2 linked regions of the Homo sapiens genome follow. The protein of the gene in region 1 purifies or fractionates together with the protein of each later gene. This does not show direct contact. Each region holds a gene or a part of one and is shown on either strand. Other genes may lie near its edges. The genes, in order: SYPL2 and TSPAN15.

Region 1 (6,909 bases):
AGATGAGTGGGGTGGGTTGGGGAGCAGCTGAGGGGAAGGTAGAGTTTTACTGGAAATTTCGGGGGAGTTCCCATCTTAACTGCAAGGTTCCTTCCAGAAACTTGCCTCCTTACATGACCCCTTTCTTGGCTCTGTAAGAGTCCCCTGCTGAGAACTAGCACAGGACTACTTCTGGGCCAGGGAGAGAGAGGATTGCCTGAGCTCAGGATGGCCTCCCCTGCCACCTGCAGGTTGCACCGGATCCAATATGAGATGCCCCTCTGCGATGAAGAGTCCAGCTCCAAGACCATGCACCTCATGGGGGACTTCTCTGCACCCGCCGAGTTCTTCGTGACCCTTGGCATCTTTTCCTTCTTCTATACCATGGCTGCCCTAGTTATCTACCTGCGCTTCCACAACCTCTACACAGAGAACAAACGCTTCCCGCTGGTGGTGAGTCAGCACAGGCCAGAAGGAATGGGGTGGAGAAACAGATGTTTGTGAGGGGGTTGAGGTCAGAACTGGAGCAGAGGACAAGCATGGCGGCTTCCACCCCCATGGTGGAACCTCTGCCTCCATCAACCTCCCGTTGCTTGCTCCTGTTCACAGGAGGCACAATAGCACCATACACAAGCAGGCTCTGGAGTTAGACTGCCTGGGTTCAGATCCCAGCATGGCCCCTTACTTGCTGTGTGATCTCGGACAAGTTAAATAACCTCTCTAAATCGCAGTTTCCTTAACTATAAAATGGGGATAAAATAATACCTGCTTCATAGTTTTGTGTGTGTATGTGAAAAAATGAGAATGCATGTATCTAGTACATAGTTAGTCTCAATAAGCATTAGCGATTATTAATATTATTCCTCTTTACTCTCTTCCTATCCCAGGCATGCAAGGCGGAAGGGGTGCCTTAAGGGACCCCATTTGCGTCCTGCAGTCTGCCACTTGTATCTGAGCAATGGTGATCAAAGAAAAAGCTGGGAGGGAAGAGTGGGGAATTTAGGCTCCACTTGGGATGAGTGGGTTTTGGGGTGAGGCTGACCAACGATGCCTTGGTACACTGTTGCCAGATCTTAGATCTGAGGGCATTAGCAGGGCTAGCCTGAGTGGCAGGACTCCTTTGGGGGCAGTGAACAGATGCCTCAGGACCACCTGGGTTCTAGGTGTTGGGTAGGATGGGAAGAGGCAACTGTCCTGGCACCCTGGGATTGCCAGTATCATGGCAAGTGGAAAAGAAGCAAGGGAATCATGGGGCCTTTCTGAGTGTATTTCCCATCCCTCTGCTCCTCCCAGGACTTCTGTGTGACTGTCTCCTTCACCTTCTTCTGGCTGGTAGCTGCAGCTGCCTGGGGCAAGGGCCTGACCGATGTCAAGGGGGCCACACGACCATCCAGCTTGACAGCAGCCATGTCAGTGTGCCATGGAGAGGAAGCAGTGTGCAGTGCCGGGGCCACGCCCTCTATGGGCCTGGCCAACATCTCCGTGGTGAGACCTGTGGCCACTGCAGGAAGCAGCACCAGCCCTGCTGCCCAGGCCTGTCCCAGCTAGCAGGTCCTGAAAGGAAAGAGAGGGTGTCCCAGAGCTGGTGTCCCCTGCACCTGGAGCTGGTGCCCTCACTGCGCTTCATGCTGGCTGCTGGCTCCTGGCTGACCCTGAGAGGACATTTTGGGATGAGGGGAACCCAAAAGCCACTTAGCCTTCTGTTCCTTCCTCCTTCTGCACTCTGCCTCCAATTCCCTTCTCATTTCCCCACCTCTAGGCACGCTCTCTGTGATGTCTCCCCTCCTCCTGCCTGTTCTACACAATGTGTGTGAACACATAAAGGGGAGCCTGGGGCTGTGGCTGAGCTTGAAGCTGCGAGCAGACCCAGCATGAGTGGGAAGGGGCTTACTGTCACTCAGCCCTCCAGCCTGGAAAGGGGCTTTGGAGCAGTAGTGGGTCTGCTGGATGCATATGGATTTGGCCATCCCAGTTGTTAGAATGTTGAAATATGTCCATATCCATTGGTAAAGAGCTGAGGTCTTGAGCTTCTCAAATGCTGCCCGTCATCCCAGCCACCTCAGCCCTGCTCTGAAAATGACTTGTTCCCACATCTGAAATGTTTAATGGCTGGCACACCAGGAACACACGTCTGGAACTTGCTGGAACCCTGCTTATGGTTCCCCCCCAAAAAAATTTTATTGTAGAAATGTTCACAGGTACAACAAAGTTGAAAGAATTTTACAGTGAATACCCATGCACTCACCACCTAGACTGTGCCATTAACTTTTTACTAGACTTGCTTTATCACATATTTATTCACTTCTTCATCCATCAATCCGTCTTGTTTTTAGTGCATTTCAAAGATAATTTGGGACATCAGTACACTTCCCTCTAAGTACTTCCTGCTGTGAGGTTTTTAAAATATGTTGAATAACTATTTGAACATAGCCCTGGCTAGGTGCCTGATCACAGGGAAGGAGCACCTTGGACAGCTCCTGCCACACCTACCTGGCGGAAGGTGCTCCGAACAGGGCCTCACGCGTGCTGTGGGAGGCGCCCCAGGGCTGACTTTTGCTTGGCTCCTTGCTATGCTTTGCACGATGCTCCTCTAAAGGGTCAGATTCTGCTAGTGACCAAGCTACAGCTTGGGTGCATGGTGTGGACAGAATTAGACACTTTCACCTGGGATTCCCCTAAACAGTTGATGGTCCTGAGCCCTGCCTCTATACCGAGCTCTCTGTCTTAGTCTTTCTAGTCCTCTGTGCTTCTTCCCTGCACAAGCCCCAACCCCAACTGCAATAGGAACTCCCCCTCCCTGTTCCCACAATGACCCCCTGACTATTCTCACAAATTCCCCTGATGTCTTTGCAGCTCTTTGGCTTTATCAACTTCTTCCTGTGGGCCGGGAACTGTTGGTTTGTGTTCAAGGAGACCCCGTGGCATGGACAGGGCCAGGGCCAGGACCAGGACCAGGACCAGGACCAGGGCCAGGGTCCCAGCCAGGAGAGTGCAGCTGAGCAGGGAGCAGTGGAGAAGCAGTAAGCAGCCCCCCACCTGGCTATTCCCGAACTGGACAGCACCTCTTCAACCACCTCCGGCTTCCAGGACCTTTCTCTTCCTCCTCCTCCAATTCCCCTCCCCCATCATTCTGGTCTTTGAGCTTTGAGACGATGGGCAGGCATCAGCTGTTGGAAACCTGGGCAGCCCTCTCAGTGGCTTCCTATCCTCCTTCTTGCTGGAGCCATGAATGGCAGGAGCTCAGTGCTTCTTGTGCAGTGCCTGGACCCAGGTATCTTACTTGGGGTCTTACTTGTACCCTTACAGTCTCTGAGAACCAGCCTCTGCTGCAGGTGAGGGTTGGGGGCAGGAAACCAGTGCTCTGAGACTGGTTCCTAGCAGCCACCTTTCTGTCAACCTGTCCGGCTTCAACAATATTAGGGGGAAGGGAAATCAGCTAGTAGCCTTCCCCTCTGGTCCCTTGTGTGGAGGCCCCAATAGTGGTTTGGCGACCCCTCCTCAGTGGCTGTCATCTAGTCCCTGCGTCTGATCTCCAGTCATCCCATGACTCAGTGTGCCTTCCACTGTCTTCTCTGGCCTCTGCCTGCCCACAGAATCCACCATGTGTGAACCAGAGAGGTCCACCAGCCTAGAAAACAGCCCTTCAGAGGGTCCTGATGAGGCCTTCCTGGACTCAGCTGGGAGCAAGATAAATTGCAACTGAGTTGCAGCTTCAAGAAAGTAAAGCCAGTAAGCTTGCTGGCAGAATCAATTTCTTCTATCCCCTCAATCCTCCCACCCACCAGGCTGGGGCACTTTCCACCAACACTCTAAACTCTACTTTAGAAACGCCCTATCTTCCTCCCTGTCCTCCTTCTTGGTCTCACACTTGGGACTCAAAAATGTGGAGTCAGGACCTGCCTCCTAATCCCCTTACTTCTCTGTCCATCTCCCTTCCCCAGCATCGTGCATCTGAGGCATTTGAGATCCTTTTTGAAGTCTGTCCAGGCCTTCCTTTTATTCCTGTGGGGCCAGACAGGGGCTTAGGAAGGGCCAAAGGACCATCATGAGGCTAAGTTGCCCCAGAGCCCCAGGATGGATGGGCCCATTTTTTCCTTATTCCCTGCTCAGTTTTTTCCCCTGCTCCTTCTCTAGTCCTTCTTTCATATTTCTCCTTCTCATCTTGAAAACAGGATGTTCCCTCTTCCCTTGCTGTCCCATTTCTCCCCTGTGTCCTTATTTCTCCCAGTCTCTATCCCCTCTCAAGTCCAGGGCAGGCCGATGCTATTGGTGCTTCTTCACTTTGGGACCCAGTTCCATATTTGTCTTTAGTGTATATCCTCTTCCTGATACCTCCTTCAGTCCCTCTCTGGGCCCCAAGGCTGAGAATCAGTGTTAACTGGGTAAGGATCATTTGCTTCCTACCCAGCTCAATCTGCCCTGGCCATAGGGCTTCCCAGGGAAGGAAGAAGAGGGAAGAATCCGACCACTTTCCAATCCAGTGCCAATTGGCCCACTAAGCATCCTAAAGGTGAATGTGCCCTGTGCCAATCTCTCCTCAGGACTGAGTCAACCCCCTTCAACCTCCTCACCTCTCTAAACACCATCCATAGTAACATGTGCATTACTGGGGTACCTAGGAGTCAGGACTTTTGACTTCAGGCCAGTCATTTCCTCCCGATGGGGAAAGGGTGAGATTTACATCCCCAAATGCTTGAGTCCCTCAGTGAAAGAATTAGTTTTTGTTTGTTTGTTTAAGATTTTGGGGAAGAGATTTGAGGAGGAAAGAAAGGAGATGGGGTGAGAGGGTTTTTAAGTCTGAAACTCTCTGTCATGAGCTGTCCCCATGGTTACTCAAGGACAAGGGGGGACAGTTTTGCCTACAGCTCCAGAGACACAGAGAACAAAGGGGTGACCTTCATTTTTCTTCAAGCCGGCCTCTGTGGGGGTCTGTGAGCAGCTTCTACTGGATCTTTGTTTGGATTCTGTGTCTGTATTTATAATTTATTTGAAATGTGCTGGGTAGTGTTCTCATTTGGGGGCTGAAGTTAGCAACTGGGCCTTCAGCTAGGGAAAGCAGTTGCGGGCAGGGGGTGGGGGGAGATTATATTCACTCCTGCCAAGGACTCCCAGCCCAGGACTCTCTTTAGAGCAAGGAAGCCTCGTTCTCTTTCTTCTCAAGAGGCTCTCTTGTTCTCCATCAGGAGAGCCTTGATTTAGGCTACGGCCTCACTCTCTATGGCCACCCTAAGAGGAAAGGCTACTTCACCTCATTACCTCCAGAGGGCTGGGCAGGGCCAAGTGCCTCATAGGACTCATGTTCTCTCCAACCAGGGCTGGCATCACTGCTTTGCAAAGTGGGGCCTGAGGTAGAAGAAGGTGTCTGGTTTCTCCAGCTGCTGTAGGAGGCTAATGGGCAGGGTACTTGCCCTTTGTCCCACTAGACTCTAACCCAGCACCAGGGTGCCCACCTAGGACCTTTCCTGGACATGAGTTTCCTTCACTATCATAGTCATGAGCCTCCTACTTCTGGGATTGCAGATCAGGGGTGGGGGGAGAATGTTGCATGTTGTTTTCTGGTGCTTGTTATTATATATTTGAATAAACAGTGCTGCAAGTACTTGCCATGAAGGATCTGAGACTGGAGTCCTTCCGGGGATTTATTTTTTCTTCCTCTCCCTTGCTTTAAGTTCTTGAACCAATATCAGGACTTTCACCAAGATATCATTCTACTGCTTTCCACTGTGCACCCCAAGCAACAAAGTCAGACTCTGTTGCTTGGGGTGCAGAGAGGAGAGCAGTTATTCCTAGCAGGCTCTGGTCTAGTGACATCTCCTCTTTTGGTGGCACCCAATTAGACCAAAGTAACTGGGACTCATTAGCAATTCTGGAGCAAACTCAAAAGGTGAGAGATAGTGGCTTCCACAAAGCTGTTTCCATTTGTTCTCCTACCATCTGTGACCCAAACAGGCTTCCTGTCAGGAGTTGAGGGCCATATGCTTCACTTTCTTAACTATCAGCTTCTTGTTGAACAAACTTGCACCTCTATCCCTCTTCAGAGAGTCACACACTACATTTACATCCCCTAGAAAAATACCTTGGGTACAATTGAACATTTAATTTTTACCTGATTCCTGGATGCCCTAGGGATCATCTGTGGGTCTCAGGTTGAGATTCCCTGCCCTCAGAGATTATTCTTGAAGTACTTACACCTTCCCTGGATGAAAAGGAGAAGAAAATCTGAGGTCTTGCTCCCCAACTTGTTTTCCCCTTAGCTAAAGGGTCAAGCGTCGGGGGTGAGGTGTGAGAGGTTGAGGAGGAAAAAGGATTAGTATTACTTTTTTAATGCGATGGCGGCGGGGGGGGGGCGGGAAATGGAGTAGGCAGACTTTTGTCTGATTGTGTGAGGGTGGGAAGAAATGTTATCAGCTGAGAAGATGAAAGAAATGGATGATTAAGGTACTTTCCAGACCTTAGCAAGGAAGATGACAGCTCTGATGAGAAATCTCCCTATGCCGAGGCTTCAGAAGCAGCCCTTCCAGCAGAGAAAGTATTCATTAGAAAAAGAAGGCAAAGTGATGGATGGAGTCAGGGTCCAGCCAGGGTTTGGGAAGAGGCTGTACAGGGTATCGATCGCAGTTCTCAAGAGAAGAGAGACAGATCAGCAGAGATGCTGCAAACACCAGCTGCCTCGGGGCCACCCCAGTTCTGGGGCTGGCTCTGGCTCGGAGACAGCCTTCTGTCATCCTGTCATCATGACAGGTGATCTTGGTCAGCTTGGCCAGGTCCTCTCAAATCCAGACAACGCCACGCCAACCCTCTGCTCTGCATCAGGGCAGCGTGGGTTTCCCACAGAGGAGGCACGACACGGGAGCCGAGGCCCTCCCCCACACCACCCCTGTGTCCTTCAGCACCTCCTACAGACTCCCTCCCCTTGCCCTTCTGATTCAC
Region 2 (7,087 bases), on another chromosome or scaffold:
CTCACTGCAACCTCCACCTCCTGGGTTCAAACAATTCTCATGCTTCAGCCTCCCGAGTAGCTGGGATTACAGGCACACACCACCACGCCTGGCTAATTTTTGTATTTTTAGTAGAGATGAGGTTTCACCATGTTAGCCAGGCTGGTCTCAAACTCCAGACCTCGGGTGATCCTCCCGCCTCAGTCTCCCAAAATGCTGGGATTACAAGCATGAGCCACCGGGCCCGGCCCCAGTAGTAATTTTTAAAGTAAGCAAAAAGTCTTACAGAAGGTACAAGGCTGTCATAAAACTTATGGCCCTCCAGACCTAAAAACTGAGATGCAAATTGCTAGCAGTTTGGACTTACAAAGCAAGTAACCCTTCCCTCAACCCCAGAGATGGCACCAGAGATGGCACCAGAGATAATAGGCTTTCCTGTAAATGGTTTCCAAATAACAGTAAACCTGGTCCAGGACAGATTACTTACTCACACTGGGCCCTGCCCTGCAGTCAAACTCTGGCACCTGGAGCTGCTCTGGCAGAGTTGGCAGGTGGCTGAGTTCTTGGCATGGGTGTAGAGACTTTTAAACAGAAATACTTCCAGGGATGGGAGTTAAGGATTTGGTAAGGCAACCTCAGTTGGCAGAGGAGGGATTCCAAGTTCTGAGAACCACCCTGCCCAAGAGAAGCAAGGCAAGGGCCATTGGGTGGGCTTCTCTGGGGGCTGCAAAGGACAGTGACAGAACAAAGCCTTAAAAATTAGAGTTCAGTTTTATTTAACTGCATGAGGTATGTTTGTACTGCACTGATTTTGCTCATATGTCACTCTTTCCCCATATCACTAATCCTAAAACAATTCAGTGAGGTACAGGGCAGAGATTCACTTATTCATTTTATAGATGAGAAAATGGAAACGTGAGGAGGTAGAGAGACTGGTTTGTGATTATATATCTGGGGAAGGGGTGAAGCCCAAAATACAACTCCATCTTCCTACCTCCCCACCCATCAACCTTAGGCTCTTTCAACTCTGATTTACAGAGAGAAGGGCTCACAGAACACACAAGGGGCAGGCACAGAAATCCTGGGGACTTAGGGGACCTATGAGACCATCTAGGGCAGCAGTTTTCAATACTGACTGCACACTAGAATTACCTTAATTCTAGTAAGTAATTTACTACAATTAAGCTTATGTAAATTTAAATAAATACCTATGCCAGGGCACAAGAATCTGATGCAACCGCTGATTTATAGCTCAAATCACCCCCACTCCCATCCCACATATGACCTTCTGTCTCCCTAGAGCTTCCACCAACAGGTCCTTGCTCCATCCTCCGCCCCCCAAACATACTGTTCATCTCTCCTCCACATTACCTAGAGTCAGAGAATTGGATTGGAAACTGGCCTCAGACTAGTCTTCTAGATGGAAAAGTCAATGAACAGTTCTGAGGCCCAAAACAGGAAAGTGACTTGCCTAAGATATCCATAAGTCAGTAACAGAGCTGAATCTGGATCTCCGATTACCAGGCAAGGCCCCACCCACAAAGGGGTCACAGGGAAAGCCAGTCCTGATGGCAAATCCAGCAGCTCCTGCTAGCAGAAGAGACCCAGCAAGGGGCTAAGGAGGACACCAGGGGAGAGTGTGTGTATTTGGTGGGAATGGGGTGTCAGTGACCACCCTGGGTCCCTGGGCAAGTCTGCTCTTGTGGCATACTGCAGGCAGAGAGCGATTCTGGAGTGACAGGGGCGGAGCTGGCCTATAGGAAGATATCCTCATCTCTAGAATAGGGCCCAGCCTAATATGAAACGCCCTTACAGAAACCCAATCTCTTGGGGCAGCTTACACCACAGGTGTCCAAATTCCCTGCCCACGATAGTAATAATGTCTCACACTTCTTGAGCTCTTCACTAGGCACCATACCCGGCCTATTTCACGTAATCTCCGCGAGCATCCTACAAGTTGAATATAATTACTGTGTCCATTTACAGATGAGGAAACCATGGCCGAGAGGAATGAAGTAACTTCCCCAAGATCACTCAGCAAGTGCTCATTTCAGAAACGCACAAACTGAAATTGGAACGATACAGAGATTAGCAATGTTTTAAATAAAAAATAAAATATAAAATAAAAGACCACTCGGAGCGACGGAATTCAAAGCTTGGTTCATGTCTAAACACTACCATCCTGCCCCCTAACAAGGCAGAGGAGGAGGTAAAGCCCAGCGACAGCGGAAACTGAGCACCTAGGTGTGCAGGAGACGTCGTCTGGTGGACTTCTCCTCGCCACGCAGGAGGCACGTGCATCCACCAAAGAGGAAACCAAGACGGAGCGGGGAAGCGTCTCGCTCAGGGGCATCAGCAAGTAACTAGCAGGGACCAGACCCGGAATCCAGGTCTCCCAACCCCGACTGCAAATCCTAACTACTTAAGCTCCACAGGCCGATGCAGAGGCAGTCAGTCCTACCGGGTAGGCGTGGTGGGCGCGGCCAGCGCGTTCACCTCAGCCTAGCCAGCCGGCCAGCGGACGCACAGCGGGCAAACCGCCCAGCCGGTGCACACAGGTGAGCCAGGTGGCACTCGGTCGGTCGACAACCGGCTCTCACACTCCCGAAAGGGCGGCTGAAAATTCAGGCTGAGCTCTGGCCGCCCGAATGTGAGGTAGAAAGACAAGGAGTCCGCGCGCGCTCACCCGCGCACTCCCTGGAGCGGCTAAGTGTGGACCCAACCCCGGGCCAGTGAGGGGGCGGCCGGATTGTGGGTCCCCACCCCCATCCCCGGGCCCTACTGGGGTCACTCACCCAGAACACGGTGGAATAGATGATAAGTGAAAACTTGAGCCAGAGGTAGGAGAAGCGCGCGCAGTAGCGCACCTGCTCCGAGTCCCCGCGCGGCATCCTGGGCGCTCCCCGCGCGGGTTACGGGGGCTCCGGGGCTCTCCGGCTCGGTCCCTCAGCCAGCGCTCGTGGCCCCACCTGCGGCTGCCGGGCTACCAGCCCCGCCACCGGCGTTCTCTCCGGGACTGACACTGGAGCGCGGCAATCACAGCCCCAGCCGGGAAGCCTGCCAGCCCTGGCGGCCAATGGGAGGCCGCGGCTGCCTAGCGTCTGGGAGGGGGCGGGCCAGGGGCGGGGCTGCTGCCCTGGGCCCTAGAGGGGACCAAGAAGGGATGGGAGGGGGAGACGGTCTTGCAAATGAGCTCGCGTGCAACTCTGGAAACGCCTGTGCTAATGCAGGGGGCGTGGGAGAGGTGAACCAGAGGTGCTCTAAGGAGAGAGCGAGCGTGCCTAATCGGGGTACATAGAAATGCAAGCTTTCCTCTTGTCAAGAGGGAAAACTTTGGGAAAAGGGCAAGAATTAATCGCCCAGGTGTTGAAAGTGCAAATGAGTGTGCTAAACGTGAATGGAATAAGGAAGTGGAGTTGCTCGGCTCAGGAAGGCTCAGGGAGGCAGACCAGGGTGGGGCTAATAGGCCCCCATGGAGCTGGAGTCTGAAGTTTGCTCGTGAAACAGATCTGCTGAAGGCCTTCACCAAACGACCTCGGAAGTCCCCTTCTTTTGCCAGGTGATAACCCAGCCTTGGGAAGGGTTCCTCCCGGGAAACCCCATCTTCAAACTAGGTTGAAGGCCTGGCGCGGTGACTCACGCCTGTAATCCCAGCACTTTGGGAGGCTGAGGAGGGCGAATGGCTTGAGCCCCAGGAGTTCAAGACCAGCCTGGGCAACATGGCAAAACGCCGACTCTATAATTAAAAAAAATAAAAAGCCAGGCACGGTGGCGCGCCTGTTGTCCCAGCTACTTGGGAGACAGGCGGGAGAATCGCTTGAGTCAGGGAAGTCAAGGCTGCAGTGAGCCGTGATTGTGCCAGTGCACTCCAGCCTGGGAGACAGAGTGAGACCCTCTCTCCAAAACAAAAACAAAAACAAGGCCGGGCACGGTGGCTCACGCCTGTAATACCAACACTTTGGGAGGCCAAGGCGTGCGGATCACTTGAGGTCAGGAGTTCGAGACTAGCCTGGACAACGTGGTGAAACCCTGTCTCTACTAAGAAATACAAAAAAAATTAGCCGGGCAGGGTGGTGCATGCCTGTAGTCCCAGCTACTGGGGAGGCTGAAGCAGGAGAATCGCTTGAACCCGGGAGGCGGAAGTTACAGTGAACCGAGATCCCGCCACTGCACTCCAGCCTGGGTGACAAAGGGAGACTCCATCTCAAAAAAACAAAAAACAAACAAACAGAAACTATAGGTGAGGGAGGCAGCTCCCTCTCTTGCACATAGCCAGCCACTAACCCAGCCTCCTCCCACCTGGCCTTTTCTCAGCCTGGGACCAGAGGTGGCTGTGAGCCTGTCTCTCATGCTAGATGGTCCCAGCTTTACTCACTGTTGTTTCCTGTCTCCCAAGCCTAGCTCAGCCTGGGACTTGGGAGCCAGACAATCCCTGCTGTGGCCTTCAGTAATTAAATCCATGGCAGAGGTCATAAGCTCTAGCAGTGCTGGGTGGGGTCCCTGGTGGTGATTTCAGGAACGACACTCTTATACAAGTCCCCAGTCCTGGGTTCCCAGGGCTCCTGCATACACAAACTCAACAGAGAAGGACAGACTCAGAGACTTAGTCCAGGCTGGCTTTAGCCCCCAGAGCTCTGCCCTAGGAGGAAGAAAGCAAGATTGGGGGGTGGGGAGGGAGGCAGTGCCATGCCTGGAAGGGTAAAAGGAAACCAATTTCCTGGTACAAAACAAACAAACCTTGGGAGGATGTTTGTGTGGGGTAGAGAAATAGAACCAGAGCCAGGCACAGTGGCTCATGCCTGTAATCCCTGCACTTTGGGAGGCCAAGGTGAGAGGTTTGCTTGAGTCCAGGAGTTTCAGACCAGTCTGGGCAACGTAGCAAGACCTCATCTCCACTGAAAATCAAAAAAATTAGCCAAGCATGGTGTCTCGTGCCTGTAGTCCCAGCTACTTGGGAGGGTGAGGTGGGGGTATCACTTCTCGAGCCCAAAAGATCAAGGCTGCAGTGAGCTATGATTGTGCTACGGCACTCCAGCCTGGACAACAAAGCAAGACCCTGTCTCAAAAAAAAAACAACAGGGAAAAGAAAAGGTGGAAAGAGAACCAGAGAGTAATGCAAGCTGCCCTCAAATGATTATCTGAGGGCCAAGAAGGCATCTTACCATAGTGTTAAAAGTTGTCCATTCTGGCCGGGCGCGGTGGCTCACACCTGTAATCCCAACACTTTGGGAGGCCAAGGCAGGGGGATCACTCGAGGTCAGGAGCTCAAGATCAGCCTGGCCAACATGGTGAAACCCTGGCTCTACTAAAAATACAAAAATTAGCCGGGCATGGTGATGGGTGCCTGTAATCCCAGCTACTCGGGAGGCTGAGGCAGGAGAATCACTTGAACCTGGATAGCAGAGGTTGCAATGAGTCAAGATCGTGCCACTGCACTCCAGCCTGGATGACAGAGCGAGACTCGGTCCCCAAAAAAAAAAAAAGTTGTCCTTTCTGTCCTTTGAGGAGGAAGACTAACTTTTTATTCCTCTTTGAGGGCTAGAGCCTCCACCCAGCCCTGCAGAGCTAAGTCCACACCCATTATTTGAGGTGCTAGTCTCTTCCCCACCCATAGAAGCTTGGAACCCTCTTCATACCCTGGAAGGCTAGTTTAGCCTCCTAGTTCCCTTTCATTCTCCATATTTAAACTACAGTCGAAACTGCCACACACCTCCATCAGGTTTCCTTCCCAGTTGCCCCTGGACTTCTATTCTTCCCTTCTGGCCTCTCCAGCCAGCTGCATTTTCTCTCATCTTTCAAATATTCCCTGGTGACACACAAGCTTCTTAGCAAGCCCTCTCAGCTCTCCCTAAGCCCTCGAGGTGAGCCATCCCTACAAAGAGCCTTGGAGCTCTTTGGGGCTGGCACAGCCTTTCCCTGGCTGCTGGGCTTCTTCACTGTGCCTCCCCACCTGCAATCCTGACCCTGACCCCAAGCACTAGGGCTCCTCCTGAACCACATTTGCAAACACTGAGACCTCAGAAGAAATGGCCATCTGTTTCCCACTTTTCCTCCTTTAGCCAGGAACTCTGGCCTAGGGGCCAGCAGGCCTGGTGCAAATCCTGGTTTTGCCATTACTTTTTTGTAGGACTGTTAGAATGTGTGGCATAGTGTGACACACAGGTGTGAATGCAACCCTAGCTGCAGACTAAAAGCACCTGGTAAGCTTTAAATGTATCCTGATATTCAAGCCCCACTGCAGTCAAGTCAAAATCCCCACCAACAGGAACGTGGTAATCAGTATTATTTTTAAACTCCCCAGGTAATTTCTCATTTTTATGTTTATTTTTATTTTTTTGAGAGGCAGTCTTGCTCTGTCACCCAGGCTGGAGTGCAGTGGCGTGATCTTGACTCACTGCAACCTCCGCTATACAGGTTCAAGTGATTCTCCTGCCTCAGCCTACCAAGTAGCTGACATTACAGGCCCCCGCCACCACACCCAGCTAATTTTTGTATTTTAGTAGAGACAAGTTTCACCATGTTGGTCAGGCTGGTCTTGAACTCCTGACCTCAAATCATCAGCCCACCTCCGCCTCCCTAAGTGCTAGGATTACAGACATGAGCCATTGTGTCTGGACTCCCCCAGGTAATTTCTAAAGTGCAACCAGAATTAAGCATCACTGGTACAGAGGTAGTCATGAGGGTAAGGTTGTCAGCCAACATCTTACCAGAAAGCCACATTCCAGAAGTCACTTACTCAGCTATCCACTGATATACTGGTAAATATTTAAAAACTAGCTGGTGTGGGGGATTCCAATTTCCATAAAGTAAATACTTCCACCATGTCTGATTTTAAGTTACCAACTTCACTTCAATGAACTTGGGAGTTCAGAGGCATGCAGAGTCTGGAACAATCACTCAGTATCCCATGCAAATATCCATATCTCAATCCACCCCCAAGGCTTTTCTAATTAGCATAATGAATGGATTGGTAAAATTCTGGGCTTATTAATTAGCATAACAGGTATTAGAAATGAGTCTCCTTTGGAGAAATTAACAGTATTAAAGATATTTAGATTGGCTAAAATAGTTTTGGCACCACCCATTCCTTGTTCAAACAGTGTCAAAG

Evidence for each region.
Region 2: the proteins of SYPL2 (region 1) and TSPAN15 purify together in Homo sapiens (affinity purification with mass spectrometry; 2 studies listed by BioGRID and IntAct, with this or other methods). This does not show direct contact.

What each region holds. Positions count from the first base shown.
Region 1 is NC_000001.11:109,476,546-109,483,454, forward strand, and holds the end of SYPL2 (synaptophysin-like protein 2), read left to right. Parts: intron 1-230; coding exon 231-432; intron 433-1,272; coding exon 1,273-1,464; intron 1,465-2,832; coding exon 2,833-3,003; 3' UTR 3,004-3,572; coding exon of another isoform or gene 3,573-3,588; 3' UTR 3,589-5,589; downstream 5,590-6,909.
Region 2 is NC_000010.11:69,447,378-69,454,464, reverse strand, and holds the start of TSPAN15 (tetraspanin-15), read right to left. Parts: upstream 3,001-7,087; 5' UTR 2,871-3,000; coding exon 2,775-2,870; intron 1-2,774. UniProt on the Homo sapiens protein: Part of TspanC8 subgroup, composed of 6 members that interact with the transmembrane metalloprotease ADAM10.